Regions from separate parts of the Homo sapiens genome. Here all the other regions are linked to region 3. The links come from fine-mapping of genetic effects on gene expression. A gene starts in region 3. Each other region holds a variant in brackets. All regions are shown on one strand. Distances are from middle to middle. Region 1 has its middle 34 kb from the start of MAP3K13. Region 2 overlaps EHHADH (enoyl-CoA hydratase and 3-hydroxyacyl CoA dehydrogenase). Region 3 holds the start of EHHADH (enoyl-CoA hydratase and 3-hydroxyacyl CoA dehydrogenase).

Region 1 (11,014 bases), 74 kb before region 3:
CCTTTTTGTTACTTTTCAAGATTGTTTTAGCTATTGTATATCTTTTGTATTTTCACAAAAAATTTAGAAATAGCTTGTCAATTTCGTCAATATTGCCTGCTGAAATTTTGATTGGGAATGCATTAGATCTACAGACTGATTTAGGGAGAAATGGCACCTTAACAATTTATATCCATGATCATGGTATATATATATTGCACTTTCTATTTCTGAGTTGTTAAGTTTTTCTCAGCAATGTTTTACAGTCTTGAGTATAGAGGTGTTGTGCTCTTTTGAAAGATTTATTCCTGTGTGTTAGGTATTTTTTCTTATTTTCTTTCTTTCTTTTTGAGACAGGGTCTCACTCTGTCACCCAGACTGGAGTGCAGTGGCATGACCATAGCTCACTACAACCTCCACCTCCTGGGCTCAAGCGATCCTCTCACCTCACCCTCCTGAGTAGCTGAGACTACAGGTGCGTGCCTCTATGCTGGGCTAATTTTTGTATTTTTTGTAGACACAGCGTTTTGTCATGTTGCTTAGGATGGTCTTGAACTCCTGAGCTCAGGCAATCCATCTGCCTCAGCCTCCCAAAGTGCTAGGTTTATAGGCATGGGCCACCACACCCAGCCTCTTTTTCTTTCTATTTTTTTCATATTTTTAATTTTTTTAAATGGATATGAAGTCTTGCTATGTTGCCCAGGCTGGTCTTTAACTCCTGGCCTCAAGTGATCCTCCGGGCTCAGCCTCTCAAAATGTTGGGATTACAGGCTTGAGCCCACTGTGCCCAGCCAGATATTTTTAATGGTGATATTTTCACCTATTTTAGCTGTTGTTTCTAGTATGATTTTTATGTTGACTCTAACCTGTGGCCTTACTAAGTTCATTAATTAGTTCAAGTTTTTTTTATAGATTGTATAAGGTTTTTTATGCATACAATCATGTCATCTGTTAATGACAGTTTTATTTCTTTTCTGCACTTTAGGTCTTTTAATTTCTTTTTCCTTTTTTGTTTTTGCCTTATCATACTAGCCCTATACTAAGTATCTAATATACATCATCTCATCTTTACAACAATCCAATGTTATTCCAATTTAACAAATAAGAAAATGTGGCTCAGAAAGGTTCAGTAACTTGTCCAATCAAGATTGCACAGCTATTAGTAGATCTAGAATTCAAACCCAGGTAGTCTTATTCCATACCTGTATGTACGACTACTAGACTAGCTTATAAATTTGGAAAACTCAAGGGCACAAGAACAAAAAATGTTATCAAATTAAAAATAGGAAAAAAATTCCATTACTGGCAAAGAATATGAAGAGTTCACAGAAGAAAAAGGCATTTATTTTAAATATGAAAAGATGCTCAACCCCTCTCATAATGAAAGAAATACAAATTAAAACTATGATAAAATGGTATAGCTGCTATGGAAAACGTATGGTGGTTCCTCAAAAAATTAAAAATAGAATTACCATATGATCCAACAATCCCATTGCTGGGTATATAGCCAAAAGAACTGAAAGCAGGACCTCAAAGAGATATCTGCACATCCATGTTCACAGAGGCCTTATTCGCAATAGCCAAGAGGTAGAAGCAACCCAAATATCTATTGATGAATGAATGGATAAACAGGACATGGCATATACATACAATGGGATATTGTTCACCTTACAAATGAAGGAAATCCTGCCATATACTACATCACGGATAAGCCTTGAGGACATTAGGCTAAGTGAAATAAGCCAGCCACAAAAGGATAATTACTGTGTGATTCCACTTACATGAGATAGCTACTAGTCATTCATTGAAACAGAAAGTAGAATGGTAGTTGCTAGGAGTTAGCAGGAGGAGGAAGTGGAGAGTTGTTATTTAATGAGTATAGAATTTCAGTTTCACAAGACAGAAGTGTCCTGGAAATCTGTTGCACAAGAACGTGAATATACTTAACACTACCGAACTGTACACTTAAAAATGGTTACCTATGTTATAGGATTTTTAACCACAATTAAAAATGAAAATTAGTTTTTAAAACTTCAACACAAATTTTATTGTAAATTCTAAAAAACAAACACTATGCTGAAACCATTATTTAACCTATCAAACTGGCAAAAATCCAAAAGTCTGATGATTCTGTTGGCAAGGATATGAGAAACAGTACTCTTATAATGGGGGGGGGGAGTACACATTGGTACAATCCCTAAAGAAGGCAGTTAGGCAATATTTATGATACCTTTTGATCCAGTAATTCTACTTTGGGGAATTTAGTCATATGGATATACTGTATGCATGTATAAAATGATACATGTACAAGGCTATGAACTTCAGCATTGTTTACAATAGGAAGACACTGGAAACAACCAAAATGTCTATCAACAGGTGACTGGTTATATAAATTACAGTACATCCGTACAATGGATTAGTAGGCAGCTATTTAAAAATGAGGACACTCTCTATGTACTTACATGGAAAGAGATTCAACATATATTACAACTGAAAACATTTAGAACATTACGTATAATGTTATGTGTAAAAAGGAGGGAAATAAGAATCTATTTATACTTTTATATTTCCTTACTACATATATCAAGAAACTCTGGAAAGATACATGGAAAAATAATAGCCGTGGTTTGGGGACCCTGAATGGGAGCTGAATGGATGGAGAACTGGCTGGAGTGGGAAGTTGATATGTTTTGGTCTTGGAAATGTGAATATATCATCTATTCAAAAAATTCCTATGGTTGGAAATAAATTTTAATGACACCAGTTGTCATACAACGATTTACCAAGTGTCTACTACATGTCAAGCAGGCACTATCCTAGGCACTGACAATATGGCCCTGAACAAGACAAAGTTCTTACATTCTAGAGGGAAAGACCAAATATATATCCTACATAACACAACACACACACACATACACACACAGGCATACATATATGTACACACATTTTTTAATTTATAAAATAAATACTGCCAGGTGGCTACTTAAAAAAAAAGAAAAGAAAAGAAAAGGCCAGGCGCAGTGGTTCACGCCTGTAATCCCAGCACTTTGGGAGGCCAAGGCAGGCAGATCACCTGAGGTCGGGAGTTCGAGACCAGCCTGACCAACATGGAGAAACCCCATCTCCTTACTAAAAATACAAAATTAGCTGGGCATGGTGGCGCATGTCTGTAATCCCAGCTACTGGGGAGGCTGAGGCAGGAGAATCGCTTGAACCCGGGAGGCAGAGGTTGCAGTGAGCCGAGATCCCACCATTGCACTCCAGCCTGGGCAACAAGAGTGAAACTCCGTCTCAAAAAAAAAAAAAAAAAAGGTAAATTAGGTTAAAAGAAAAAAAGTGTTATGGTGGAAGTGGAGTAGGGTGCCATTTTAGTTAGGGTAGTCTGGGAAGGCCTCTCTGAGGAGGAGCTATTTGAATAGAGACCCGAATGAAGGCTGGGAAGAAACAATGAGGGGGAAGAGCTTTCTAGGCAGCAGCTGCCCTAAGGCAAGAGCAGGTCTGATGTGTTCAAGAGAAAGCAAAACACCTTTGTAGCTAGAGCAACCTGAGTGAGAACAATGGCAGGCAATGATGTAAAACACATGCTTGAAAGCCAGATCCTGAGGGCTGGTTTGTAGGGCACGAGCAGTGGTCTGGATGGTATGGGCACCTACTGGAGGTTAAAAACATTGTTTTCAAAGGGGCTTGTTACCATGCGGCTAGTACACACCTGTATGGCCTTCCAGGTTGTTAAAAGACTGAAACATTTCAAGTCCCATGAGAAAAATAGCTGCTTCCCTAGTAACAATGTTACCTGCCACACTGGCTTCTTTCCCAGGACACCCCCCAGCCCTCCACTCCTTCTCCTCAACCAACAAGTAAATGAGGAACTTGGCCCAGCAGAAGCTATTGACTTGGAGAAGTTAATCAGCTCAAGAGGCTAGAATCACGAGATTCAGAAAGCTAGAGGGTGAGTTAAGGTTTTCAGTTCATTGTAGCCCTAGAGCCTTAGGACAACGCGTCCTGGATTCCATCTCACCGAGATTCAGTTGGGGCCCAGCACCATGATCTGAGCTCCCGCTCAGTACAGCAGAAACAAGAAGCAGGATAGAGAAACAGACTGAGGTCTGAGATGAAGACAGAGGAAGGGGAAACCCAGTGAACGTCTATATAAATAATCTCTCTTCTGAGCACTCCTCCAGTGATTTGAAAGGCTACTGGCTAGGCCGGGCGCGGTGGCTCACGCCTGTAATCCCAGCACTTTGGGAGGCCGAGGCGGGTGGATCACGAGGTCAGGAGATCGAGACCATCCTGGCTAACATGGTGAAACCCCATCTCTACTAAAAAAAAAAAAAAAAAAAAAAAAAAAAAAAAAAAATTAGCCAGGCATGGTGGCGGGCGCCTATAATCCAAGCTACTTGGGAGGCTGAAGCAGGAGAATCACTTGAACACGGGAGGCGGACCTTGCAGTCAGCCAAGATTGTGCCACTGCAGAGCGAGACTCCGTCTCAAAAAAAAAAAAAAAAAAAAAGGCTACTGGCTAATTCGACCTTTTATATAGTTAAAAGTCATATAATTGTCATGTACCAGGTTTTTTAAAAATGCATTGTGGTAAAAGGGAAATAGAAAATACCAACCTTTCCAACACCACATGCGACCTTAACATTCTCATGGCTGCATTAATAAAGTCAATATGTTTGTGTAACAATGTGTAGTTCCTGGATCCTAATCTCAAGACAGAAGAGCTGAAACACGGCAACTCTAATTTCATATATGAAACTCATTTTACGCACCATAGTACTGGGAATTTAGTCTGAAAAATCCATACAGATGTCAAATCTTAAGAAAACAGATTTCTCCGAAGTTGCGTGAAACCTCAGGCTGCTTGCCACTTCTGTTTTACAAAGTTCTTCCTCTTTGAAAATACATTCTGCTGCTCTTAAATCTTGGATCCCAACATCTTGTTACAGGATATTAAGTTCTACTTTATTCTCATTCTTTTAATTTCTTTGAACATCAAAACCTCCAATTTAATGATCTGAGAGACTGCTAAATATTTGCTGACATGAATCTGTAACTATGAATCTAAACCAGAGGAAAAGCAACTGGAAAGAACATGAGGATAAATCTAAGCACTGCTTAGAAACAATCTCTCGGCACTAGGTACATACTCACTTTTATTTTCTAACTGTAAACACTTGCACTCAACATAAGACATTAGAAATCATTTCGTGCAC[A/G]CGGGACCTGTTTTAGCAGCACACTTGCTGATACACCTCACGGCTTTCTTTTCCATTAAAAAAAAATAAAACTACTGCTGAGTGCTGAAACTTTCTTTTCAGTAGTTCTAATCCCTAAGATTTAGAGCCAGGTAGAAACTTGATTTAATCTTTGATGGAAATTATTCTTACAATCCTTTTTATATGAAAATGTCATAATAGTTTTTTTTAAAAAAAACTACTTACACCAAGCTGAAGTCTGAACAGACAGCATGGAACTACCAGCAGCCGCCAGTTTCCTCACAGACTAAACTAAACTTTGCTCCCTTCCTGGCTGTTTCTGGATCAGGTTCACACTGATACACATTTACAGTGGCCTTGGAAGCTACCAACCAACACAGCGAGGTGGGAGGGTTTGTTACTCTAACTCTTGTTTGATAACTGCTTATCAGCAACTTCTCAAAGGTCGACTTAAATGTGTTTAAAGAGACAAATGTAAGGAAGATTATAAGGAAAGCCTGAAAAATCTTAAAATCTCCGATGGCTGGGCTTTGGTTTCCGAGGGGATTTCTTTCCCATATGTTCCTGGAAAAAAGAAAAAAGAAAAGGATAGTCCTCTGAGCTTCAAATATCTTGCTTTCCTCTCATAAAACTTTCCCAGCCACCTGCAGTGGCTCTCGCCTGTAATCCCAGCACTTTGAGAGGCCGAGACGGGCGGATCACCTGAGGTCAAGAGTTCAAGACAAGCCTGGCCAACATGGTGAAACTCTGTCTCTATTAAAAATACAAAAATTAGCTGGGTGTGGTGGTGGGTGCCTGTAATCCCAGCTACTCGGGAGGCTGAGGCTCCTTTTTGAAACTCCATTTCAAAAAACAAAAAACAAAAAGACAACTTTCCCTTCCTCCTCAGAAGCTATACATTGTACAATCATGGCAGAAAAGGGCCAGAAAGTTGTTTCTCCACTATAGTCCTCCCCCATCTCCATTCTCCCTGACTTTTTTACTAGTGAAAGAAAGTTCTTGGTAAACGTAGTATTTTCTGACATTCAAACCACCGGCTGATCTGATGTAAAGTGAGAACATGGATCCCAAATTCTATTCTTTGCAAGATAAAATATGATACTGCTTCATCTCTTGCCACATTCCTAAGCTTCTTTCCCTTCTGAGCTACCATATTTCTTTATTTTATTCCTTCCTTCCTTCCTTCCCTCCCTCCTTCCCCCTTCTTTCCTTCCTTTCTTCCCTCCCTCCCTCCCTCCTTCCTGCTTCCTTCCTTCCTTTCTTTTCTTTCTTTTTTCTGACAGAGTCTCACTCTGTTGTCCCGGCTGGAGTGCAGTGGCACGATCTTGGCTCACTGCAACCTCTGCCTCCCAGGTTCAAAGGATTCTCCTGCCTCAGCCTCCCGAATACCTGAGACTACAGACGCCCGCCACCGTGTCCAGCTAATTTTTGTACTTTTAGTAAAGACGGGGTTTCACCATGTTGACCAGGCTGGTCGCAAACTCCTGACCTCAGGTGATTTGCCCGCCTTGGCCTCCCAAAGTGCTGGTATTACAGGTGTGAGCCACTGCGCCCAGCCTTGTAATTTCTACCATTAGCCTTTGAAGCAGCAACCATTTATTACATACTTACTGCACTAATCACTTTATGAACATTATTTTATTCTCTCCCAGGCAATAAATTTGGAGATCATCTTAATTCTTTTCAGTCTGACTCTCTGAGTCCAATTTGACCCCTTCACTATCCTGGGGATCTTCTGCAACAAGCACCGTGATAGGCAAAATAATGCACCCCTCAAAGATGTCCATGTCCTAATCCTGAGAACCTGTGAATATGTTACCTTCCATGGCAAAAGGGACTTTGCAGATGTGATTAACGTTTAAGGACTTTGAAATGGGGAGATTATCCGGAGGAGTCCAACCTAGTCACATGAATCCTTGAAAAGCAGTGAACTTTTCCCTCCCAGCTGTGGTCAGGGAGATGTGATAGGAGGACTTGACTAGCTCTCGCTGGCTTCGAAGATGGAGGAAGGGGCCTCAGAGGACTGCAGGTGGCCTCTAGAAGCTAGGAATGGCAAGGAAACTGATTTTTCCCCAGAGTGTCCGCCCTGATGACACCCTGGTTTAGCCTAGTGAGACCCATGTTGGTCTTTTGACCTACAGAACTATAAGATAAACTTGTGTTGTTTTTAAACCACAAAGTTTTTGATAATTTGTTATGGGAGCAATAGAAAAATAATACAGGTACTTTAATTTCAAGCTCCTTTAAAATATAATACTCAAGACTGAACAGAATACGCAAATGAAAACTGATGCAGAAAAAAAGTTGTGGAACTATCAAATTCATTAATCTGGGTGCTGTACTTTTATAAATGCAAATCAAGATTATTTCAAATTTTTAAAGCATTATACTCTTAACTTAGTGGCCTCCTAAGTCTTTGGCCCATGAGCTACATTAAACCAAGTGCCTAGCTGTACCCTCATTTTTTTTTTTCTTTCCTGTGTTGGGATCAAACACACACAAGTTTCCCAAGTGTGAATCCTGGTTCTATCCCTTACTTGCTGAGTGATTTTAGGTAATTTGCTTAACCTCTCTGGGTCTCAGCTGACTCATCTGTAAAACGGGCACAATATTTCACCTACTTTTTAGGTAGGATGAAGTGATGTAGCTCATACAAAGTAGTTGGACCTGTGCCTGGAACATAGTAACTGCTGGGTAAATGTCAGCTGCTACTGTAAGGACGGGCTTTCTTGTGGGAGCTGAGGAACAGGCTAAGATTCGTGTCTGGATCAATAGATAAGCTGCTCCAGGGCAGAGGTGCCCTGGAGAACAGGAGCCACTCCAGATTCTGCTAAAATCCTGGGGGCGTGGTGGGGTTTGAGGCTTTTAAGTATATGTGGAAAGGGCTTGAGCTGATCCTAGTTGGATTTCATGGGTCTGAGAATCCCACTTTCCCCTGGAGTTGCAAAGTAAACACTTGCTACCTGCCAGGCACTGTGCTAGCAATGAATCCATCTGACAAGACTCCTATTCTCCCGGGACGGACATTCCAGCAGGAGGGTGGAGAATAGACAAACCAGGAAATTTCATGGGGTGCCAAGTACTGTGATGATAAGAGAACAGGGTGACTGGGGAAAACTCAATATTCAGGACTCACTGAGAAGGAGGGAAGTTTGAGCTGAGAGGAACATGAACTGAGGAGTGAGGGGAAGAAACAGTGTTTCAAGCGAAGGAACCAAGCGTGAAGCAAGTAGAAAGGAACAGTGTTTCAGCCAAAGGAACAGCCAATGTAAAGGTTCAGAGGCAAGAATGACCTTGGCTTGCTCAAGAACCAAGAGGACGAAGGCCAGTGTGGCCAAAGCAGAGATCAAGGACCAAATGTGAGGCCCAAAAAAGTAGTCAGGGACCCTGTAACTGTGGGGAGAGGTTTGGATTTCATACACTGAGATGCCATGGGAAGGTTTTCAGCAGCCAAAGGACAGAATGTGATTGACAAGGGAACACTTGAACCTGACAGGAAGCTGGTCCTGCCCAAAGCCTCTGCTTCAAGTTCCAGAATCCCCTTCACAGCCAGTCTGATCATACCTGGTCCTTCTTACCTTCTCAGCTTTTAACCACCCCTCTACCTCCCAAAACCAAATAGGCAGTTTTGAGGTGACACTGAGCCAAGGTAGCAGTCTATGAGGAGGAGAGAGCAAGGGATGCAAAGCGACACACGTGACGGCTGCAAGTTCCTCTTTGTAGTAGGCTGAATGGTGGCCCCTCAGAAAGAACCCATGTCAAATCCCCGGAATCTATGAATGTGACTGTATTTGGAAAAGGAGGCTTTGCTGATGTGACTAAGGATCTCAAAATGAGATCATCCTGGATTATCTAAGTGGGCTCTAAATCCAATGACCTGTCCTTGTGAGAGAACCCCCTCATTCTTTTCTCAGTTAATTTTAGAAATGAAACACAGGGTCCTACATACAACCTTTTTACATTTCACATTTTGGTTTTAGCCCACTTTTCCAAATTATTAAGATCATTTTGAATCATGCTGGCTGTCCTCTGTCATAGTAAGTAACCTTTTCAGCCTAACTACGTCTACTTAATGACCATGATTTCACCCAAATTATTAGTAAATAAACATTGAACAGTCAAGATTGAGAATAGAGTTCTGAAACATGTTATTAGAGACCTTTAGTTTGATACTGATCCATAAATCAATATTCTTTGGGTGCACATGTTTGATCAGCTACAAAACCACCTATTCTCATACAGCTTATATTTTTGTAGTTCCTCAAATATGTCAGGAGAACAAAATACCTTGTAAGTAAAGACATGTCCACAGCATCCCAATCTTGTCAAACTCTAATGGAAATGAAGATGTAGTTTGTTTGAGCAGTTTTTTTTTTTTTAATTGTGCCGGTTCTTAGTGATTATCATTTTTTTAAAGAGTTTACAAACTATAAGTTAATTCTTTTTTCTAGAAGTCTCCTTGAGGTTAAAAGGAAGTTTACACAAATGGAGGAAATGACATGAATCTCTGTCTCAAAATAGGAGATATAAGTGGAGGAGAAAAGTAGGGGAACATTAGAAAAGAAAGCATGGCGGAAGGGGCAAGCACGGTGTGCCCCTGGGAGAGGGAAGAAACCAGGCTGGTCATAGCAGGGGTGGTTGTTGAAAAGTACTGGGAAATCGGAATTGAAACATAGAATGTAAAGTCTAGAAAAAGGGACTAGGATTTAAAATTAAAATATCAGAAAATGGGAGGAATCAAAAGATTTTAAAGCGAGAAAATAAAATAATAAAGGTGCTTTAATAAACAACCTAATTGAAAAGTGGGCAAAGTACATGAACAGTTCAGAGAAGAAATATAAATGGCTCTTAAATATATAAAAAGGCACTCGGCTGGGCGCGGTGGCTCACGCCTGTAATCCCAGCACTTTGGGAGGCCGAGGCAGGCGGATCACGAGGTCAGGAGATAGAGACCATCCTGGCTAACATGGTAAAACCCCGTCTCTACTAAAAATAAAAAATAAAAAAAAATTAGCCGGGCGTGGTGGCGGGTGCCTGTAGTCCCAGCTACTCTGGAAGCTGAGGCAGGAGAATGGCGTGAACCCAGGAGGCAGAGCTGGCAGTGAGCTGAGATCGCACCACTGCACTCTAGCCTGGGCGACAGAGCAAGACTCCGTCTCAAAAAAATGAATAAATAAAAATAAAAATAAAAAGACACTCAACCTCACTCATTATAAGAGAAATCAAAATTAAAAGTACAATGACGTCATCTTAACCTATATTTTCACCTAACAAATTGGCAAAGTTAAAAAAGTTTCATAAGATACAATGTTGGTGAGGTTATGGGAAAATAATGGAGGATAAATTGATAGAACCTCTCTGAAGAGCAAATTGGCAATCAAATTATGAACACATACACTTTCACCCAGCAATAACTAAAAACATACACATGTACGTGAATATTAACTGCAGCATTGTTGGCAAAAGAAAAAGATGGAAATCAGGAAGGAACTGGTAAATTAAATTATAGTACAGATATCTAATAGGATACTGGAATTTAAAAATTAGGTGACTGTGGCCAGGCACGGTGGCTCACGCCTGGAATCCCAGCACTTTGGGAGGCCGAGGCGGGCAGATCACCTGAGGTCGGGAGTTCGAGACCAGCCTGACCTACACTGAAAAACCCCATCTCTACTAAAAATACAAAATTAGCTGGACGTGGAGGTGCATGCCTGTAATCCCAGCTACTCGGGAGGCAGAGGCAGAATTGCTTGAACCCGGGAGGTGGAGGTTGCGGTGAGCCAAGATCGCGCCATTGCACTCCGGCCTGGGCAACAAGA
Region 2 (11,014 bases), 46 kb after region 3:
AATTTAAGGAGGCCTATTTATTTGCCTTTCATTTTCATTTGAGGTATTGTGCCTATCTTTTCTTTTTGTGCTTCCCCACTTTCCTCTTTTTTCTCTTTCTTTTTTTCTTTTTTTTTTTTTTGAGACGGAGTTTCGCTCTTGTTGCTCAGGCTGGAGTGCAATGACATGACCTCGGCTCACTGCAATCTCCTCTTCTCAGGTTCAATTGATTCTCCTGCTTCAGCCTCTGGAGTAGCTGGGATTACAGGCATGCATCACCACACTCAGCTAATTTTTGTAGTTTTATTAGAGATGGAGTTTCACCATGTTGGCCAGGCTGGTCTTGAACTCCTGACCTCAGGTGATCCACCCGCCTCTACCTCCCAAAGTGCTGGGATTACAGCCGTGAGCCACCGCACCCAGCCTCTTTGTTTTAAATACAGTGGTTAGTGTGTGGTCATTTAGCAGAACAAAATTGATGGATTAACTTGAAGGAAAGTTTCCACAAAAATTCAATATGTTAATTACATTAAATATATATGCATTTATTAGAAATCTATAGTTATGGAAAGCTAGAGCAATTGTCTTGATCTAGAGCCATGGTCCTCAAACTTCACTGTGCATCAAAATTGCTTTTTGGTGGGCTTGTTAAAGCACGGTTAGCAGGGCCCCACTCATTACTTTCTGATTCATTAAATCTGGGGTGGGGCCCAAGAATTTGTATCTCTAACAAACATGCTTAGGTGATGTTGATGCTGTGTTCTGGGGACCACACTTTGAGAACCATTGATATACAGAGAACAAGGGTAAGAAAGGAGATAATTTTTGCTAGTTTTGATTTTTTTTACACCTGACACGCAAACACTACCTATAGTCTTTTTTTTTTTTTTTTTTTTTTTTTTTGAGACAGAGTCTTGCTTCTTCACCCAGGCTGGAGTACAATGGTGCAATCTTGGCTCGCTGCAACCTCCGCCTCCTGGGTTCAAGCAATTCTCCTGCCTCAGCCTCCCAAGTAACTGGGATTACAGGCACAAGGCAGCACACCCGGCTAATTTTTGTGTTTTTAGTAGAGACGGGGTTTCACCATGTTGACCAGTCTGGTCTCGAACTCCTGACCCCAAGTGATCCACCTGCCTCTGCCTCCCAAAGTGCTGGGATTACAGGCGTGAGCTACCGCACCCAGCTGCTATAGTCTTAAAGATATTTTTGTAAATCAGTTATGAAAGGCATGGTTAAAATGCATACACATATGGTTGCACAACCTTGTGAATATTCTGAAAAACACTGAACTATACACTTTAAAGTGGTGACTTTTGTGGTATGCAAAGTCTGTCTCTGTCTTAAAAAAATACATGTTGAATTTTTGTATTCCCTTTTCCCATTTGTAACCATATTCCAATTATTCAGCCTATTCTCACTCCCACTGCTCAAATGTTTGCTTTAAAACAACAACAACAACGAAAGAAGAAGATGAAGAACATTTATTTAGTTTCTACTTCTTATAGGAAAGGAGGGAGAAAAGGGAATTTCCAATGGTCAAGGTTCCAATCAGCACTTTTGGAACCAATTACGAGTGGGAAGGGAGTGTAGAAGGTTAACATACCTAAAACGCAATTTGGGACTTAGCGGCACATTTCTCTACAAACTTAACACTGTATCCTGGTGAGTTGACTGTGGAAGTTCATTAGCTTTATGCATTTTAATGTTCGTATTCTATGAAGCCTCCCAGACTACTGCAGTGCAATGGATTTAGCAGTGCAATGCAGAATTACTTGGCCAAACCAGATTGCATTGGCTAAACTAGGGAGGGGAGCATCCTATAAAATGCTATATATTTGCACATGCATGTGGCTAGCAGCCTGCCTGTTTCTGAACTAAGAACTCCTGTTCTCATGTGCATGTTTCTGGCATGATGCTGAATGTGTGTGCTGTTATTCAAAGACCAAGAGACTAAAGGCTCTCTCTCTCTCTACCTTCCCCAGCTGGAATGGGCACAGGGAATTATCCAGCTGGGAGTGTCAACTCTGGAACCTAATGCTCCGTTTTCCTTTCTGTAATGAACCCTGGTCCTGTTCCTGTGGCTGTGCTGGGCTGTGTTAGCCACTTTTAACAATTCTAATTCTGCCTAAAGACCTTGGTCTATTTGTTCTTTTGGAGTTGTGGCTTTTAAAAAACCTTAGTGGTTTTATTTGTCTTTCTCTTCATTTTATCTTCTTCACTTTGTAATTTATTTTTACCCGCTGTGAACATTTATATGAACATGTTTCAAAAGAGCAGAGTGACCTGCCTTACATAGGAGGCCTACGCACATGTCTAAATTGAGCTTCCTTTTTACCTGCTAGACAAGTTCTGTGGGTCACCTTCTTGAAGCCTGTTAATGTGCAGTTATTCTGTCTGTCCTTTGCAAAGCTTTTATGATGGACACAGCTTTCTGTTTATCAGGGTTAGAGAGAGAGAGAGAGACAGATTCCTTGATGTCTGTGTTCACGATTTCCGTGAACCGCATGTTGAGTCTCTCTTTAGCCTAGGCAGAGAAAATCTTTTCCTGCCATTACAGCAGAAGAAGAAGGGAAAATAATCACCTCCTTTTGTTCCTTCAGAAACGTGACTCACTTATCTTTTTTATCAAAAATGTCATAGAATACCTCATAGAACTAAGAAAAAATGTGAATGGGTCAAGGAAAGAATTCAATTAATAGTATATTTGAATCACTGATTACTTCCTTTCCTCCCCATTTCCCTGGGCAGCCAATGCTGATGCTGACATACTGACACTTGCCTCTCTTATTGTATAGGTACTGCTGAGTGACTTGAAAACTACCAAGTATACAAGAAATACACTTTGAAAACAACTGTACTTATACACCCAAAGGGGAAATTCTGAATATCTTATAACTGAAGTTGTAAGATAACAGCATCCTTAGTTATAGCTGTAGCAAGAAAGAGATAGGAAATTGAGCAGGGAAAAACCATCTATGATTGTGCCCGGATCCAAAATTTTCCAGTGGGTATGCTTAGTTTGGCCCTAGGACTGGTCTAGACAAGTGCCTTGGATAGCTCCCAAAATGCCCATATGCAGTCTGCGAGGTTTTCAGTGTCCCCGGGATAATAGGATTATGCTGATCAGAACTAATTACTGCACACCATTAAGCAGGCTTTCTTTTCATTTCAGTTTTGTTCTCTCCTCTCTTTTTTTCCCATCTTTTCTTTTCAATCTCTGGCCTAAAATGAAATTGCCAGGAACTGCAGCTGTCCTTGATTCAGTGGCGGACAACACTCTCTGCTCTTGGAGCTCCCAGAGGCTATACCTTAAAATCAGCTTCTGAACTTTTCAAGAATAGTCTTACTAGGCCCCACCTTTAAATATTCCCTTTTTTTTTTTTTTTTTGAGACAGAGTCTCACTCTGTCGCCCAGGCTGGAGTGCAGTGGCACAATCTCGGCTCACTGCAACCTCTGCCGCCCAGATTCAAAGCGATTCTCCTTCCTCAGCCTCCCGAGTAGTAGCTGAGACTACAGGCACCCACCACGCCTGGCTAATTTTTGTATTTTTAGTAGAGACGGGGTTTCACTATCTTGGCTGGGCTGGTCCTGAACTGCTGACCTCATGATCCACCTGCCTCGGCCTCCCAAAGTGCTGGGATTACACTGTGCCCGGCAAAGATTCTTAACTGAATCTATGGTGAGGCCTGGGCATGGCTACTCTTAAAAAATTCAGCAGTTAATTTTGAGGTATGATGTGGGCATCTGAACTTCGTAAACTCTTCAAATAAATCTGATGTGTGCTATGATGTTGAGAAGCACCCCCAGGAATGCTGGGAACAGAGGTAGTATCACAAGACAGAGATCCAACTCTAAGATATCCCAGCGCTGTCTATGCCCTGTTACATGGCATAGATTGCACCGGCAGCCCAGCCTGCCTTCCTCCTCCGCTTGTGCCTCCATGCTCTTGTTCTCTCCTTCCTCTCCCCATTGTCCATTCTTGTCTTCCTTTTAGGTCACCGGCACATTAAATCATCTGTAGACCCTGGGGGAGTCCCCATTCTTCTCTGCTGAGTTTGCTTTCCCTTAAATTGAGGATTGGGCTAACTCTTTGGGTAATTGAGCAAGTAATTGGTGGGCCTATTGGATACGGTTCATGTTTTTTCAAAGTAGTAGGGTGAGAGGGACCACATGCCTATAACCACTGTCTTCTCTCCATTCCTGAATCCTATTCTTTAACATCATATGGGAAATCATTAATTCAGAAACTCATTCTTTCCAACACTACTTACTAATCAAGCATTAAGAAAATATTCTTGTCTCTTTGATTTAAAAAGGAGGCTGAGATTATACAATATATCTATATTACCATGTGCACATGATTACATCCAAACCTTACTCACGTTCCCTTGGACACGCCTAACACACCAATGCCAGAGGGGCTCAATGCCAGATGCGCTTATGTTCATATGTCTTTTTATGGTGAAACTGCTCTGGTATAAGCCCTGGTAGGCTTTCTGTCTAAATAACTAAGATGTACATTTTTGATAAAATGGTTTTATTTTTTAAGAGATGCCAGTACATTATAGAAAACAACTTCTGGTATAGCTGAAGTTTTGGTAACTGTAAGTTGTTATGAATTTATTATTTTATGAAAACTTTGGAATCATTCTGTAAAGTTATTTTTTAAAATAGTACCATAAGGATTCTTATTAAAATTTCATATATAATACATATGGAAAATATATTTTTATGCTATTAAATATTTATATCCAGAAGCATGGTGCTTTTCTGTTTTTATTAAGGTCTTATTTTATGTTCTTCAATAAAATGGTATAGTTATCTTCTGAAAGGTCTTGTACCTTTCTTGATAAATTCATTTCTAGATACACTTTAACAGTTTTAATGAGGCGTGATTTGCCTTATAGATTGTGCAGCCATCCCCATAAATCAATTTTAAGACTTGTCCACTCCCACAAAAAGTTTCTTCATGCCCATTAACACTAACTCCTACTCACATCCCCAGCCCTAGGCAACCACTGATCTTTCTGTCTCTATAGATTTGCATTTTTTGGACCTTGGATCTAAATGGCATCATACAATATGTAATGTTTTGCATCTGGCTTCTTTTAGTTAGCATAATGTTTCTGAGGCTCATCTGTATCTGTATTGTAGCATGTATCAACAGTTTGATCCTTTTTATTGCTGAATAATATTCTATTGCATGGCTCTATCAAATTTCTTTAGTCATTCAACAGCTGATGGATGTTTGGATTGTTTCCAGATTTTGCTATTATAAATAATGCTGCCATGAATATTTGTAGACAAGTTTTCTTTATGGCATATGCTTTCATTTCTCTTGTGTAGATTCCTGGGAGTGAAATTGCTGGGTTGAACAATCAGTTTATGTTTATCTTTTTAAGAAACAACTAAACTGTTTTCCAAAGCAATGTGCTGTTTTACACTCTCAGAAGCAACGTATGAGGCTTCTGGTTTCTCTACATCATCACCAACATTCAGTAGTGATGGCTTTTTATTATAGTCATTCTAGTAAGTCTAACTGCATAACAAATGACCCCAAAACTTAGTGGCTTAAAATCAAACATTTATTCCACAATTTCTGTGGGTCCAGAATCCAAGTGTCCTAGGTCCTCTGGCTTTCAGATTTCAAACAAAGCTACAATCAAGGTGTTGTCTGTGGCTGTAGTCATCTCAGGTTGATTAGGGGTCAGGGGGAGAATCTGCTTTCAAACTCACTCAAGCGGTTGTTGGTAGGATTCAGTTCCGTATGGGCTGTTGTACTGAGGGCCTCAGTTCCTCACTGACTGTGGGCTGAAAGCCTCCCTCAGTTCTTTGCCACGTGGGCTTCACCATAGGGTGGCTCACAACAGGGCAGCTGGCTTCCATCAGAGTGACCAATTTGAGAGGGCAAGAAAGTATGAGCAAGACTGAAGCCAGAGTCTTTTTGTAACCTAATCTAGAAATGACAGCCCATTACTTAGAGTCTGTCTACCACATTTGTTGCGGTTTTAATTTGCATTTCCTTAATGACTAATGATGTCGAGCATCTTTTTGTGTGCATATTAGCCATTCACATATGCTCCTTGATGAAATAACTGCTCAAGTTTTTGCCCGTTTAAGAAATTACATTGTTTACCTAATTATTGAGTCATAAGAGTTTGTTACATATTCTGGAAACAAGTTCTTTATTTGA[T/C]ATTTGATGTGCCAATTATATTTTCTATTGCTGTGCTAAAAAATTACCACAAGCTTAGCAGTTTAAATCATCCGAAATTATTTTCTTACAGTTGTGTAGACTAGAAGTATTGTAGAGGTCTCCCTGGGCTAAAATCCAGGTGTCAGCTGGTGCACTCTTTTCTGGAGGCTCTAGGGGAGAAACTGTTTCCTGCTTATTTGGGTTGTTGGCAGAACTCAGTACTTTGCATTGTGGGATCAGAGTCCCCATGTTCTTGCTTGCAAACTTGCGACCTTGTAAACCTTAAAGGTCAATCCCAGCTTCTAGAGAACACTGCATTCTTTAGTTCTTGGTCTCCTTTCCTCATATTCAAAGCTACATCAGTGCCAACAGGTCGAGTCCTTTGCATGTTGCATTTCTCTAACCCTTCTTCCTTGTTGAATCCCCCTCACCACAGTCAGGAAAGATTCTCTGCTTTTAAGGACTCATATGATTAGATTGCACTCAATCAGATAACACAGGGTAATATCCCCATCTCAATGTCTAATTTTTTTTTTTTTTTGAAATGGGGTCTCACTCTGTCACCCAGGCTGCAGTGCAGTGGCACGACCTTGGCTCACTCACTGCAACCTCTCAGGCTCAAACGATTCTCCCACTTCAGCCTCCAGAGTAGCTGGGACCACAGGGGTGCGCCACCATGCCCGGCTAATTTTTTGTATTTTTGGTAGAGACAGAGTTTCACCACGTTGCCCAGGTTGGTCTCAACCTCCTGAGCTCAAAGCAATCTGCCCACCTCGGCCTCCCAGAGTACTGGAATTACAGGCGTGGGCTACTGTGCCCAGCCAAGGTCTTTAATCTTACTCTCACCTATACATCTCTTTACCATGTGAGGTTATACATTCACAGATTCTAGGAATTAAGACATGAACATTTGGTGGGGGGGGTGTTATTCTGACTACCACACAAGTATTTTCTTCTAGTTTATGGCTTGTCATTTCATTTTTTTTTTTCTGTTTTTTTTGGAGACAGAGTCTCGCTCTGTCACCCTGGCTGGAGTGCAATGGCATGATCTCGGCTCACTGCAACCTCCACCTCTCAGGTTCTAGCAATTTTCCTGCCTCAGCTTCCCGAGTAGCTGGGATTACAGGTGCACACCACCATGTCCAGCTAATTTTTTGTATTTTAGTAGAGATGGGGTTTCACCATGTTGCCCAGGCTGGTCTCGAACTCCTGAGCTCAGACAATCCACCCGCCTCGGCCTCCCAAAGTGCTAGGATTACAGGCGTGAGCCACTGCACCTGGCTGTCATTTCATTTTCTTATTGATATCCTTTGAAGAACAAAAGTCTTTAATTTTTATGAAGTCTGATTTCTTGTTTCTTTTGTATGTCATGCTTTTGGTGTTGTATCTAAGAATACTTTGCCTAACCCCAAGGTCCTGAAAATTTTTTTATATTTTCTTCTAGGAATTTTTATAGTATTAGTTCTTCAATTTAGATTTGTGATCTGTTTTCAGTTGATTTTTATATATGGTGCTAGGTAAGGACCTAAATTTTTTTTTTTTTTTATTGTTTTTGGCATGTGGATATCCAATTATCCCACTACGATTTGTTGAAAGATTCTCCTTTTGAGGATTTTTTTCTGAACGATTATTATCTAAAGTGTGTTGTTGCTTTAGGGTCACAGTATGCTTGTGTGCATCTGTTACCATGTCACTGTGGTCCTTCGCTGAGTGCCCTTAGGGGACTAGAATCTTTCCAATAAACCACGTTTGAGATCGTATGAGTCAGCGTGCAGTGTAGCCCACACTTGAGAGTGTGGATTTATGTGCACAGTCACTTTGCTCTGGGTGGAAGTAGGTTATAGTTGACTTACTTTCTCGGTGCTTGTTCCTACAGCCCCTCTTTTCATGTGTTGCTCAATCTCCCTATCCCTTCTTGGTGCTTGCACATCTCAGACCCTTTAGCCAGACCCTTTAGCCAAACCCTTGCCAATAACAGTATTTTTGTTCTCAGTTCTGTTCCCTCTGGTTGCGGAGACTTTGAATAAAAATGCACACACCTATTCAGTGGGATTTAGCTGGAAAAGGTGACCTTCCAACCTCACGTCAACTTCTGGCTCCTCAAACAGTAGGTTGGCAGTAAGGCAGGAAAGTTGTTTTCCCATTTCTCACTGAGCAGATTGTGAATATTTCCATATGGATTTTCTGTTGTTAATGTTGCTCCGATTCTTTGTTTTAAAATAAAAATTCTGAATGTGAAAAAAAGAGACTCTCCTTTCTTCCATTGAATTGTTTGGACACCTATGTTGAAAATCATTGGCTATAATTGTAAGAGTTTATTTGTGAACTCTCGATTCTCTTCCATTGATATATATACCTATCCTTGCATCAATACCACGCTGTCTCCTTTTCTAGGTATTTTAAAGTTTTTGTTACTATTAGGAACGGAGTTAAGGTTATTTTGAATCTAAAATATTCACTCAATAATAGACACTAGAGTCTCTACTACAGGGGAAGGGAGGGAGGATGGCAAAGGTTGAAAAACCAACTTCTGGGTACTATGCTCACTACTGGGGTGGCAGGATTATTCATATCCCAAGCCTCAGCATCGTGTGATATACCCATGTAACAAACCTGCACATGTATGCCCTCAATCTAAAATAAAAGCTGAAATAATTTTTAAAAATTAATAAATAAAATATTAACTCAGAACCGTTTTCCTTAGACTCATTAATATTTAATATATTAATATTAATTACAGATTAAATATTAATCTATTGATTAATTTAATTAATTAATCATTAATCTATTATAAAATTGTCTTGGTCTTGGATTAAAAAGAAAATACAACTTTTATGCCTAAACTAGGTAACCTAAAATTGCTTTGAGTCTACTAAATTCTATCTTGTAGGACTGTGTTGCAAAGATATCAGAGATGTTAGTGTACATATGTTTAGTGTACATTAAATGTCTTAATGAATAGCTTTTAGTTTGTGCTTTGAATTTGAACAGGTTATTGTTATTACTATATATTCACATTCCCTTTGTACAAGTAACATTTCCAAAGCTCTGATCCTTCTTATTCCTTTCAGATCAACCTCTAGAATCCCGTAGACTCTGCAACAAGCCAATTCAGAGCTTGCCCAACATGGACAGCATTTTTAGTGAGGCCCTCTTGAAGATGCGGAGGCAGCACCCTGGGTGTCTTGCACAGGAGGCTTGTGTCCGTGCAGTCCAGGCTGCTGTGCAGTATCCCTATGAAGTGGGCATCAAGAAGGAGGAGGAGCTGTTTCTATATCTTTTGCAATCAGGGCAGGCTAGAGCCCTGCAATATGCTTTCTTCGCTGAAAGGAAAGCAAATAAGTGGTCAACTCCCTCCGGAGCATCGTGGAAAACAGCATCAGCGCGGCCTGTCTCCTCAGTTGGTGTTGTTGGTAAGACCATGGGGTAATGAATGGAATCCTCCAAATCTGCTCATGTAATGTGCTACCATTTGCTTAGGGCTACCGGATGCTAGGTTTCACGTAAGACACATTACTTGTGTTAGCTAAGCTAATTCTCACACCACCCCATGAGCTCTCTTCTTTAACATGAGAGGCCTAGAGACGCCAGCCTTCTCAATGGTGAGCTAAACACGAGTAGGGTGAAAGTCTGACCCTAGGTCTGACTCCAGACTGGGAATGTTTTATTCTTTTTTTTTTTTTTTTTTTTTTTTTTGAGACAGAGTCTTGTTCTGTCACCCAGGCAGGAGTGGAGTGGCTCAATCTCGGTTCACTGCAACCTCCACCTCCCAGGTTCAAGTGATTCTCTTTCCTCAGCCTCCTGAGTAGCTGTGACTACTGCCACCATGCCCAGATAATTTTTGTATTTTTAGTAGAGACAGGGCTTCGCCATGTTGGTCAGGCTGGTCTCGAACTCCTGGCCTCAAGTGATCCACCTGCCTTAGCGTCCCAAATTTCTGAGATTACAGGTGTGAGCCACCATTCCTGGCCTAGCATTTTTTATTCTATGCTACCTCTTCCCTGTATGAATCTCTCATTCCTGGATTTCCTGATGATGATGATTTGTACCACATTTCAAGGTGTGGCCTGTCACTCTCATAGCTGGGTATTTGCAATCAAGTCTCTGTCTTTCCGTCCCCCGATCCATTCACTTCACCTGTTCAAAACCACTATCCTCAAATCCATCTTAACCCTGAAACCATGGCTTCCTTACTTTTTTTCCCTCTGGAATTTTCCCAAACAAAATATCTTCCTTCCTCAGATGCTAGCTCCCTGATTGGCTTCTCTGGGCCACTTTCCTAAGCTTCACTTGCTCTTAGTCTCGGCTCAAGAACGGTCTTTGGTGGATTTTAAATCCCTTGAGATGGTAAGTGAAGCATTCTTTGCACCAGCTTAGGTACAATCTTCTGGGGAGAGGGTCCATAGTTTACTAAAAGCATCAACTTTCTTTCTTTTCTTTTTTTCTTATATTTAAGTTTTTTTAATCATAATTAAAGACATGCAGGAAAGTTATAATAGTACAAAAAATTCTCATATACTTTTTATCCAGATCCTCCAAATGTTAACGTTTTACTATATTTGTTTTATTTCCCTCTCTCTTTTCTGAACCCTAAGAAAAAGTTACAGACTTATGTGTATTTCCTAAAATTAATATTCTCATACATGACCACAGTATAATTTATTTTAAAAAACAGGGCAATTAATATAAAGAACTATTATTTAGTCTATAGCCCTTATTCTGATTTTTCTTTCTTTTTTCTTTTTTTTTAACCATCTTTACGATTTGTAAGTATACAGTTCAGTAGTAATAAATATATTTATATCCTTTTTTTTCCCTTCATCTCCCATCCCCCCCTCCCC
Region 3 (11,014 bases):
AAAAAGAATAATTTTGTCTAATTCAGAAGTTATCTAAAAGACAATCCTAAGCAAAAAGAACAAAGCTGGAGGCATCACGCTACCTGACTTCAAACTATACTACAAGGCTACAGTAACCAAAACAGCATGGTACTGGTACCAAAACAGATATATAGACCAATGGAACAGAACAGAGGCCTCAGAAATAACACCACACATCTGCAACCATCTGATCTTTGACAAACCTGACAAAAACAAGCAACGGGGAAAGGATCTCCTAGTAAGTAAATTATGCTGGGAAAACTGGCTAGCCATATGTAGAAAGCTGAAACTGGATCCCTTCCTTACACGGTATACAAAAATTAACTCAAGATGGATTAAAGACTTAAACGTAAGACCTAACACCATAAAAACCCTAGAAGAAAACTGAGGCAATACCATTAAGGACATAGGCATGGGCAAAGACTTCATGACTAAAACACCAAAAGCAATGGCAACAAAAGCCAAAATAGACAAATGGGATCTAATTAAACTAAAGAGCTTCTGCACAGCAAAAGAAACTATCATCAGAGTGAACAGGCAACCTACAGAATGGGAGAAAATCTTTTCAATCTACCCATCTGACAAAGGGCTAATATCCAGAATCTACAAATAAACAAATTTACAAGAAAAAAACAACCCCATCAAAAAGTGGGCAAAGGATAGGAACAGACACTTCTCAAAAGAAGACATTTATGCAGCCAACAGACATATGAAAAAATGCTCATCATTACTGGTCATCAGAGAAATGCAAATCAAAACCACGATGAGATACCATCTCACACCAGTTAGAATGGTGATCATTAAAAAGTCAGGAAACAACAGATGCTGGAGAGGATATGGAGAAATAGGAATGCTTTTACACTTTTGGTGGGAGTGTAAATTAGGTCAACCATTGTGGAAGACAGTGTGGTGATTCCTCAAGAATCTAGAACTAGATATACCATTTTACCCAGCAATCCTATTACTGTATATACCCAAATGATTATAAATTTTGCTACTATAAAGATACACGCACACGTATGTTTATTGCAGGACTATTCACAATAGCAGAGACTTGGAACCAACCCAAATGTCCATCAATGATAGACTGGATTAAGAAAATGTGGCACATATACACCATGGCATACTATGCAGCCATAAAAAAGGATGAGTTCATGTCCTTTGCAGGGACATGGATGAAGCTGGAAACAATCATTCTCAGCAAACTCTCACAAGGACAGAAAACCAAACACCTCATGTTCGCACTCATAGGTGGGAATTGAACAATGAGAACACTTGGACACAGGGCGGGGAACATCACACCCCAGGGCCTGTCAGGTGGTAGGGGGCTGGGGGAGGGATAGCGTTAGGAGAAATACCTAATGTAAATGATGAGTTGATGGGTGCAGCAAACCAACATGGCACATGTATACCTATGTATCAAACCTGCACGTTGTGCACATGTACCCTAGAACTTAAAGTATAATAATAATAAAAAAGACACATGCACACGTATGTTTATTGCAGCACTATTCACAATAGCAAAGACTTGGAACCAACCCACATGTCCATCAATGATAGACTGGATTAAGAAAATGTGGCACATATACACCATGGAATACTATGCAGCCATAAGAAAGGATGAGTTCATGTCCTTTGCAGGGACATGGATGAAGCTGGAAACCATCATTCTGAGCAAACTATCACAAGTTCTCACTCATAGGTGGGAGTTGATCAACGAGAACACATGGGCACAGGGAGGGGAACGTCACACAACAGGGCCTGTCGGTGGGTGGTGGCCTGGGGGAGGGATAGCATTAGGAGAAATACCTAATGTAAATGACGCGTTGATGGATGCAGCAAACCAACATGGCACATGTATACCTATGTAACAAACCTGCACGTTGTGCACATGTACCCTAGAACTTAAAGTATAATTAAAAAAAAAAAAGAAAAGGTTATTTATGAAACAATGTAGTAAGGAACCAGTAAGTAGGGGAGAGAAATGTGAAAAAAAAAAGTTTAGATAATAAAATATTCCTTAAAACCTGATAGAAAATTGGAGAAATTTGACTAATTAACATTTCATAGTTAGAGCTCTTAGTCTTGCCTAAAGTAAAATAAGAAATATAAGTATATTTTTTAATATACTTAAGCATGAAGCTGGTTAAGTATGGAGCTAAATTTCACATACATGCATGCATTGCTTCACACCGTTTACTGTTTTGCATGGATAGTGCTGGCACTGGAGTACTTATTGGTCATGTGCCTAGAGTGAATTTCTTGATTGTACAGGATGTATGATGATATTGGTGGACTTAAGGATATTGAATGGTGTATCAGGAATAAAATATTCATTATATGGGTGTTTGGGGGCCCTGAGTAACACTGTAGCCTCCAGGGTAGATTGAGTAGGAAAAATTTAGGGTGGGGTTCCTGTTTGTTTTTGCTTCTAATTTTCATTTGTTTGCTGTTTATTCTCCTCCAGGCTTTGCTTGTGGTCGCATAAATAGAAAACCATTTTTTTGTTTGTTGTTTTAGTTTCTAGTGGAAGGCTTTTATTTGGTTCTGTGAATAGTTATTTTATTTTCTATGCATTTCTACCAAGTCATCATTTGTTCCATTTATCTGGAATTCCTAGGCTACCTTTGTTGAGCTCACAGGAATTGGTGGAGCACACTAAGCTTTTTAACCTTAAACTAACTTTTTGGATATTAGGCTTCCTGATACTTTAAGTATATTGAGTATACTTTTGTAAATAGAACTTGAGTCATATTTCTCTCTCTCTGCCTAATTTCTTCAAAATTTGTAAATTGTTTGTGAATATTCTTAATTCATAGCAATGTGTTTGTTTGCATACAGTTGAGCAGGGTCACTAGGGCTGCTCATGGAGAGAGAACTCAAGAAAGCTGACATGCCGGCAAAAGGGTAAGAATTTCTTACCAGTTGGACTTCTGGCCCCTCTTTGTGCAAACTGGTTGAATGAATGGTAAAATATAATGAGAAGGCATGAGAATGTTAATTTTTATAAACATTTAACAAGCTTCCCAAAATCAAATTGCAGCTTCAAAATTGTCTTTTCTGACCTCAAACTTTGAGATGCTACAGCAGGCCCGTGAACCATCCAAAAGAGAGGTAAACAGGATTATTTGATATGTTTAGTTACATGGGAAGCATTGTGAAAATAAAAAATAATGTTTAATCATCTTCAGGTTATATATTAGTGAATGATATTAATATATGTTCCAGAATTGTATGGAATTTCTAAAATTCTAATATGTCTGAGTATATGCTATCAATCATAATTATTGTGTTATTGTAGACCACAGAAATAACCAAATCTCCTTGTCAATAGTGTTTTTAACTATCACTATTTAAAGTCATTTGAACTCCATGGTCTAAGTCAAATCAGCTATGAAAACCCATTAGTTATCAGTGCTATGCACCTAAATTGGAGAAACAACTGGTATTCAAGAGGACATAAGTCCAGTGTTAAGCATGGACTCATGGAAAACCAAGATGGCCACCTTGTTCTTCCTGAGTCCTTAAAGCTTTTGTTATTAAAGTTTCTGCATTCCGTGACTCATCATGGAAAAGATAAAATGATCCAGATTAAATATATACTGGTTTGCTGACTTATAAATTGCTAAAATAGTTTATAACCAATGTTTGGTTTACAATCAAAGCTTCAGGTACATTTGGCTACCTGATGGGCCATTTAAACATTTAAATTGTCATTTTATTTATTTATTTTTTTTTTTTTGAGATGGAGACTCGCCTGTTGCCAGGCTGGAGTGCAGTGGTGCAAGCTCAGCTCACTGCAACCTCCACCTCCCAGGTTCAAGTGATTCTCCTGCCTCAGCCTCCTGAGTAGCTGGGATTACAGGCATGTGCCACCACGCCGGGCTAATTTTTGTATTTTTATTAGAGACAGGGTTTCACCATGTTGATCAGGCTGGTCTCAAACTCCTGACCTTGTGATCTGCCCACAATGGCCTCCCAAAGTGCGGGGATTACAGGTGTGAGCCACTGCACCCAACCATCATCCTTCATTTACATAGGGCATACACCAGGTAACCAATGCAAACCTCTAGAGGGTATTGAAATCCCAGAAAATTCTGTAACTGGTCCCTTGAGCCACTTGCTCAGGCCTGCTCCCACCCTGTGGAGTGTGCTTTCATTTTCAATAAATCTCTGCTTTTGCTACTTCATTCTTTCCTTGCTTTGTTTTGCATTTTCAATTCTTTGGTCAAAACGCCAAGAACCTGGACACCGTCCACCCATAACAGTTTCGCTAGTTGCATGTGATTGTAAGACAAATAAAAATGATGTTGTGGGCTGGGTGCGGTGGCTCACGCCTGTAATCCCAGCACTTTGGGAGGCCGAGGCGGGTGGATCACAGGGTCAGGAGATCAAGACCATCCTGGCTAACACGGTGAAACGCCATCTCTACCAAAAATACAAAGAATTAGCCAGGCGTGGTGGCGGGCGCTTGTAGTCCCAGCTACTCGGGAGGCTGAGGCAGGAGAATGGTGTGAACCCGGGAGGCGGACTTGCAGTGAGCTGAGATCGCGCCACTGCATTCCAGCCTGGTCGACAGAGCCAGACTCCGTCTCAAAAAATAAAAATTAAAAAAAAAAAAAGATGTTGAGGCAGGAGTATAGGGCCTGAAGGCAGGGAACCTAAAGACTTTCTAGAACTAAATCAAATGGAAACACTTCAGCTATGACAGGAAATATTCTCTTCATTTACATAGGGTGTACACTGAGTAAATGACTTCGTAACTTCACTTCGTCCTCTTCATTTACATAGGGCGTACACCCAGTAACCAATGGGAAACCTCTAGAGGGTATTGAAACCCCAGAAAATTCTGTAACAAGGTCCCTTGGGCCTCTTTCTTGGGCCCACTCCCACCGTGTGGAGTGTCTTTTCGTTTTCAATAAATATTCGCTTCTGTTGCTTTGTTTTTCCCTTGCTTTGTGTGTTTCGTCCAATTCTTTGTTCAAAACGCCAAGAACCTGGACAACTTGCAGTCCAGACCCTCCTCTAGTAACAATGTTATATAAGTATTTGGTTGATGTTAGAGTAATCACTGGATGGGTTCTTCCTGCCTGCTGCACAAACAAAATCAATTCAGGAAGACCACAGCATTGCAGTAAGGAAAGAGTTTAATTGATGTGAGGCTGGCCACGCCACATGGGACATGGAGTTATTACTCAAATCAATCTCATCGAAGGCTAGTAGGTTAGGGGTTTTTCAAAGGTGGTTTGGTGGGCAGGGGCTAGGGTATGGAAAATGCTGACTGGTTGGGTTGGAGATGAAATCATAGGGGTTGAAGCTATCCTCTTGTACTGAGTTGCTTGTGGGTGGGGCCACAGGAGCTGTTGACTGGTCCAGGTGGAGCCATCAGTGTCAGGCAAACGTGAAAAAATATCTCAAAAGGCCAAACTTAGGTTCTACAATAGTAATGTTACCTGCAGGAGTAAATGGGGAAGTTGTCTATCTGGTGGCTTCCGGAATAATGGCTGGCAATGGTCTATGTTTACACCTTAGCAGAGAGAATTCACACTCCTCTGTCCTCCTAGCCTGGTGGTCTCTCGGTTAGCTTTACAAAGGCAGTTGAGTTTTGGGGAAGGGCTATTATCATTTAAACTATAAACCAAATGTCTCCCAAAGTTAACTTGGCCTAAGCTCAGGAATAATTAAGGGCAGCTAAAGGCAAGATGGGGTTGGTTAAATCAGATCTCTTTGACTGCCATAATTTTCTCACTGTTAGAATTTTTGCAAAGGCTGTTTCATTAGTACCCTACTCATTTAGGTGAAATGAACAATGTGTATTTTATGTGTTCCAGATGTGTATCAATATCACATAACTGTCAGGGAGGGCCCCAGGTATCTGTCCCTGTTCAGAAAGATCATGAAGATGAATACCGCGATGAGGACAGCTTGCCCGTCTCAGCGAACTCAGAACTTGTCCTCAGTAGCCAGCCCCTATGGGCCAAGGGGTTACAAACTTCGACTTGCCGGCAATTACAGCTGTTTTCCATCATTCTCCTTGCTGTACCTTCTGGTGGGAGCAGCATGGGAGTTAATAAAGGGAAAGCGACAAGCGTCTGTAGAGCGCCGGGTGGGGTCTCGGGAGAGGAGGGCTGGGTGGGAAGAGGCGCGGCGGGAGGCGGCGCCCCGGCTCGCATTGGCCCAGCCGGCGTCCCTCCTCTGGAGGAGGCCGGGCGCGCCCGGAAAAGTGGTTTGCCTGACGGCGAGAGGCAGAGGTGCCCTCGGTGATAGAGGAAACATGGCCGAGTATACGCGGCTGCACAACGCCTTGGCGCTAATCCGCCTCCGAAACCCGCCGGTCAACGCGATCAGGTAACGGGCTCGGTCGCCTCCAGCCCGGGGACCGTGCGGGCCTTAGCCGCCCTCTGGCTCCGGAGGCTTTGACTCTCCCCCGTCGGTTTAAACCGAGAAGGACACTCAAGAGTTGAGCAACTGGTACATGCCAGGAACTTTTTTTTTCTTTTCTTTCTTTCTTTTTCTTTTCTTTTTTTTTTTTTTTAACCTAGATTAGCTTGGTTAATCTTCGCAGGGAACTCTCGTCCCCGTTTTACTGATAAGGAAACTGAGGCTGAGGCTGAGACAGATCAACACTTAGGGAGTTGGCCTCGACCTGTCCTTCATGCGGAGCCCTCCTGCTTACTTGCAACTTTGGCTTTGCAGGCCGACTTTTTATTTTTCTTTTTTTTTTTTAATTATACTTTAAGTTTTAGGGTACATGTGCACAACGTGCAGGTTAGTTACATATGTATACATGTGCCATGTTGGTGTGCTGCACCCATTAACTCGTCATTTAATATTAGGTATATCTCCTAATGCTATCCCTCCCCCCTCCCCCCACCCCACAACAGGTCCCAGTGTGCAGGCCGACTTTCTAATCCAAAGGTCTTAACTTAGTTTGATGTTGGACTTTGATCCAGCCTCACTCCCCTTCTTTGAGTCCAGGCTGTCCTTACAATGTTTGGCTAAAGGCTTTAGGAATAGGGCAATCACTGGCATTAGTGGGACTTTTTTTTTTTTTTTTTTTAATGTTAAAAGTCCCACTAATGCCAGCTCAGTGATTAAAGCAGAATTTTGCCCTGGCCCGGAAACGCAAAATTATTTCTCCTGATTTGTTTAAACCTCAGGACTTTGGTGCTTCCAAGGAAGACTCACATCAGACTAAGCCTATGCAATAGCATTTTCTGAAAAATTGCACCTTATCTTCTTTTTCTCACTGGGGAGTATTTGCCTTGTGTGGTGCACTTTAAACATTAAAAAGTGAGATCAATGTTGCCTTTTTGAAAAGTAATGATTATTTGGTTTGGTCCTTCTACATCTCTTAAAAAAATAATTATATGTCAGCCTTGAAAAAGAATTACCTATCCACAGGGAATAAGATTAGTGGAAATTATAATTTATCAAGAATATATAAAGCATAGAGAGAAAGGTCTTTGGTCAAAATTCTTATAACATGCTGCTGAAGCAAAGAGACTGAAATGAGAAGACCTGCTAATTTTAATAGAATTTAAAAATCCTACTGTCATTGGATTTGATTTATCATTAGTATTAATATTAATTCATTATGAATTATTGCATTTAATAATGTCAAAAAATGCAGGACTAAAATCACATAAGGATGACATGTCTACTAACTTGCCATTCCCAGAATAAAAAGCAAAATATCTGTTATATTGGTTTTGACAAAGAAAAATGTAAGTAATATGATTACATGTCAATTTTGGACTGGTCTATATACTGATTAGAATTGCTAGATATTAGGACCTTAGGGGGAAAAGTTCCATACTCTAATACCCATGACTAGGAATATTTTCTGACAACTGTTTTTTTTTTTTCTTTTTTTTTTAAGCTCATTTGCTTGTTTTGAGACGGAGTCTTGCTCTGTCGCCAGGCTGGAGTGCAGTGGCGTGATCTCAGCTCACTGCAACCTCTGCCTCCCGGGTTCAAGTGATTCCCCTGCCTCAGCCTCCCGAGTAGCTGGGACTACAGGTGCGTGCCACCACGCCCAGCTAATTTTTTGTATTTTAGTAGAGACGGGGTTTCACCATGTTGGCCAGGATGGTCTCAATCTCCTGACCTCGTGATCCACCTGCCTCGGCCTCCCAAAGTGCTGGGATTACAGGCATGAGCCACGTGCCCAGCCTCTGACAATTGCTTTTAATATTTCTGGAATTTAACCTGCTCTCCTTGCCCACCCATGCAACCACCTGTGCCACCCCCATCCTCTTTGCAGGAGAAATGTTAGGGCCTACCTCATAAAGTTGTGAAGTTTAAATCAGCTGGAAATTATGAAGTGGCATTTAATAGATGTTAGTTATTCCTATTAGTCAGAAGACCTGTTCAAGCCCCAAAAACAGGCCCTGCTACTCAGGACCCACTTCAGTTTCATCAAGAAGATATTCTCCACTTGGGAATAAGTACTTCTCTGCCCTTTTTTGTCTGTCTTCTGAACTTTTTTAGGTAGAAATGGACATCCTAGGAGTTCCTCAAGTTTAACAGATTCCTCAATTTTTTTCTTACACTTTTTCTTTCCTCCCTTTCTTCCTTTTCCCCTTCCTATTTCTAATTTTATATGGGAAGTCGTCTCCTCCTAGCTGATTGAGAGATTCTTACTTGAGTGTAATACACACACACACACACACACACACACACACATATAAATTTTTTCCCCAAAACAAATAGTTTAAATCCTTCATTGCTAGTTTAGCCAGCCATGTTTGCTTCCATTCAGATAAACACCAGCCCTCTTTATAAGTATAGGACATGCCTGATTAATAGGCCTGTCTCCCAGAACAATGGCTTTCACACGATTGCTTTACTGTAATCCACAGAGTAAGAAAGCTCACGTTTTTACGTAGCAATTCAAGACACACTTACATACAAACACGTAACCGAAAGCAGTTTCCTAAAACAAAACCTATCCTTACTTGGTATATTGTTTGATATAGTCTATTTTCTCATCTCTTCTTTTTCTTTGAAAAAATCCTGGTCACAAGCCACAAACTTGATTTGATGACTTTTGGTTTAAAAAAAAAAACTGTCTAAAAAAAAAAGGAAAGACCTTCTATAGTCAAAGAAGCTGAAGAGTTTTGGTCAGTAGTCATGAAATGCTGTCTCTACTCCAGACTCTATTTCTTCATGCCTGACAGTATTAACAGGAGAAAATAATTTCATAACTTCTGCGGCCTTTACATTGCTATGACTCTCTCTGTCAGCTTGAATCTAGTAAAGTGCGTATCTGTTATAGCTATTTTCATTTTTTTCCTGTTTTTGATATTTGCAAAATTATGAACATAAAAAAGGAAGATAGGTTGAAATGGGAAAAGCTGGTTTCTTCTCCTCAGTGGCACTGATTGAGCTAATTTTGGCTAGTTTTGTAAGCATTGTTTATTCAGAAGGAAATGTGTGCCTTTTGGACTTTTTGATGTTATATAATGGTTCTGAATTTGCTTTTCATGGTCAGATTTGGCTTCTAATTAACCAGCTGAAGCCAAGAGGTTTTGTCTGATTTCATCTAGGTTAAGAGGTGAAAAGTAATTAGGTGTAAGGGAATCATTATAAATAAGGGCAAGTATCCTTTTTATTTCTTGGGGTTTTAACTAATAGTTGTTGGTCTTAACAATATGGCCTTTACAGAAGTTTGTTGTTGTTTGTTTTGTTTTAAAATTTATTTTTAACCCTGTGTACTAAAGAACAGAGATTTTACTCAGAATACTTGGAATTCCAAGGCAAAACTGATTGGAATCTGGTTCTGTGGTTTTTCCTTTTAAGCAGTTCCTCACCACTTGCCCTAGATTCTCTTATTGCTTGGTACTTATTAATCCCCTCCTTCTTCACAAATTTTCTCTCTTGGTCTTTGTGACTTTGAGCTCACTTGCTGAATCACTCTGCTGAGCTTGTCCCACTTCTTAAATGAAGATATATCCAGAGGATCTGCCCTCAGCTCTCTTTTCCTTTGGTAGACTCATTCAGTCTTGGTTTTAGCTATCTCTTCTGCAGATGACTTCCTCATATATTAAAACTTGGCAAAATCTGCTACATGCCCTATCTTTCCACTATCTTGCCTTTATATCTTATCTTAGTTAAGATTACGCTTGGCTGTCACTGACAGAATAGTGAAGATAATAGTGAATTAGACAATAAAAAGCTAATTTCTCTCACAGCAGTGCCCTGGAATGATACAGCTGCTCCACAATCAACAGGGGCCTCAATTATTTTCTCTGTCTATCTCTTGCTCTACCATCCTCAATACATAGCTTCTACCTCCTGATCCAAGGTGGCTGCTCCTGATCTAACCATCACTGGTGCCAGGAATAGGGAGGAAAGAAAAAGGGAAAAGCATACCCAAATCTTTAAGAACTCTTCCCCAAAGTTGCATATACCAAATATGCTTCCATCCCATTGGCTAGAACTTAGTTCCTTGTGCAGACCTTACTGTAAAGCAGGCTGGAAAATATAGTCTTTATTTTGGGCAACCATATTTTTGTGTTAGTCCATTTTCACACTGCTATAAAGACATATCCGAGACTGGGTAATTTATAAAGGAAGGAGGCTTAATTGATCACAGTTCCACATGGCTGGGGAAGCCTGGGGAAACTTACAATCATGGTGGAAGGCAAAGGAGAAGCAAGTACCTTCTTCACAAGGTGGCAGGAGAGAGGCATGAGTGCAGGGGAAACTGCAACTTATAAACCACTAGATCTCCTGAGAATTCCCTCACAGAACAGCAGCAGGGGGAAACCACTGGCATGATCCAATCAACTCCCGCTAGGTCCCTCCCTGACGTGGGGATCACAGTTTGAAATGAAGTTTTGGTGGGGATAAAGAGCCAAACCAGGCTGGGCGCGGTGGCTCACACCTGTAATCCCAGCACTTTGGGAGGCCGAGGTGGGTGGATCACGAGCTCAAGAGATCGAGAACATCCTGGTTAACACGGTGAAACCCCGTCTCTACTAAAAAT

What was found. PIP is the estimated chance that this variant, and not a neighbour inherited with it, causes the effect.
Region 1: its variant is the best candidate, but not a certain one, in a credible set for the expression of EHHADH in fibroblasts (GTEx, PIP 0.88).
Region 2: its variant is the best candidate, but not a certain one, in a credible set for the expression of EHHADH in whole blood (TOPMed, PIP 0.78).

The regions. Positions count from the first base shown.
Region 1 is chr3:185,323,369-185,334,382 of GRCh38, reverse strand. It overlaps a transcript of MAP3K13 not described here. Among named protein-coding and RNA genes, the nearest start is that of MAP3K13, 34 kb to the left of the region's middle. RefSeq lists an enhancer at 1,698-1,757. The variant A/G (reference allele first, on the strand shown) is at 5,196.
Region 2 is chr3:185,202,988-185,214,001 of GRCh38, reverse strand. It overlaps EHHADH (enoyl-CoA hydratase and 3-hydroxyacyl CoA dehydrogenase), which reads left to right. Exons shown (of 7, transcript NM_001966.4): 6 at 9,245-9,586. Among named protein-coding and RNA genes, the nearest start is that of MIR5588, 45 kb to the left of the region's middle. RefSeq lists an enhancer at 5,603-5,652. The variant T/C (reference allele first, on the strand shown) is at 6,174.
Region 3 is chr3:185,249,304-185,260,317 of GRCh38, reverse strand. EHHADH (enoyl-CoA hydratase and 3-hydroxyacyl CoA dehydrogenase) reads left to right here and starts at 6,269. Exons shown (of 7, transcript NM_001966.4): 1 at 6,269-6,369. The coding sequence starts at 6,296. MIR5588 (microRNA 5588) reads left to right here and starts at 7,046; the gene lies at 7,046-7,108.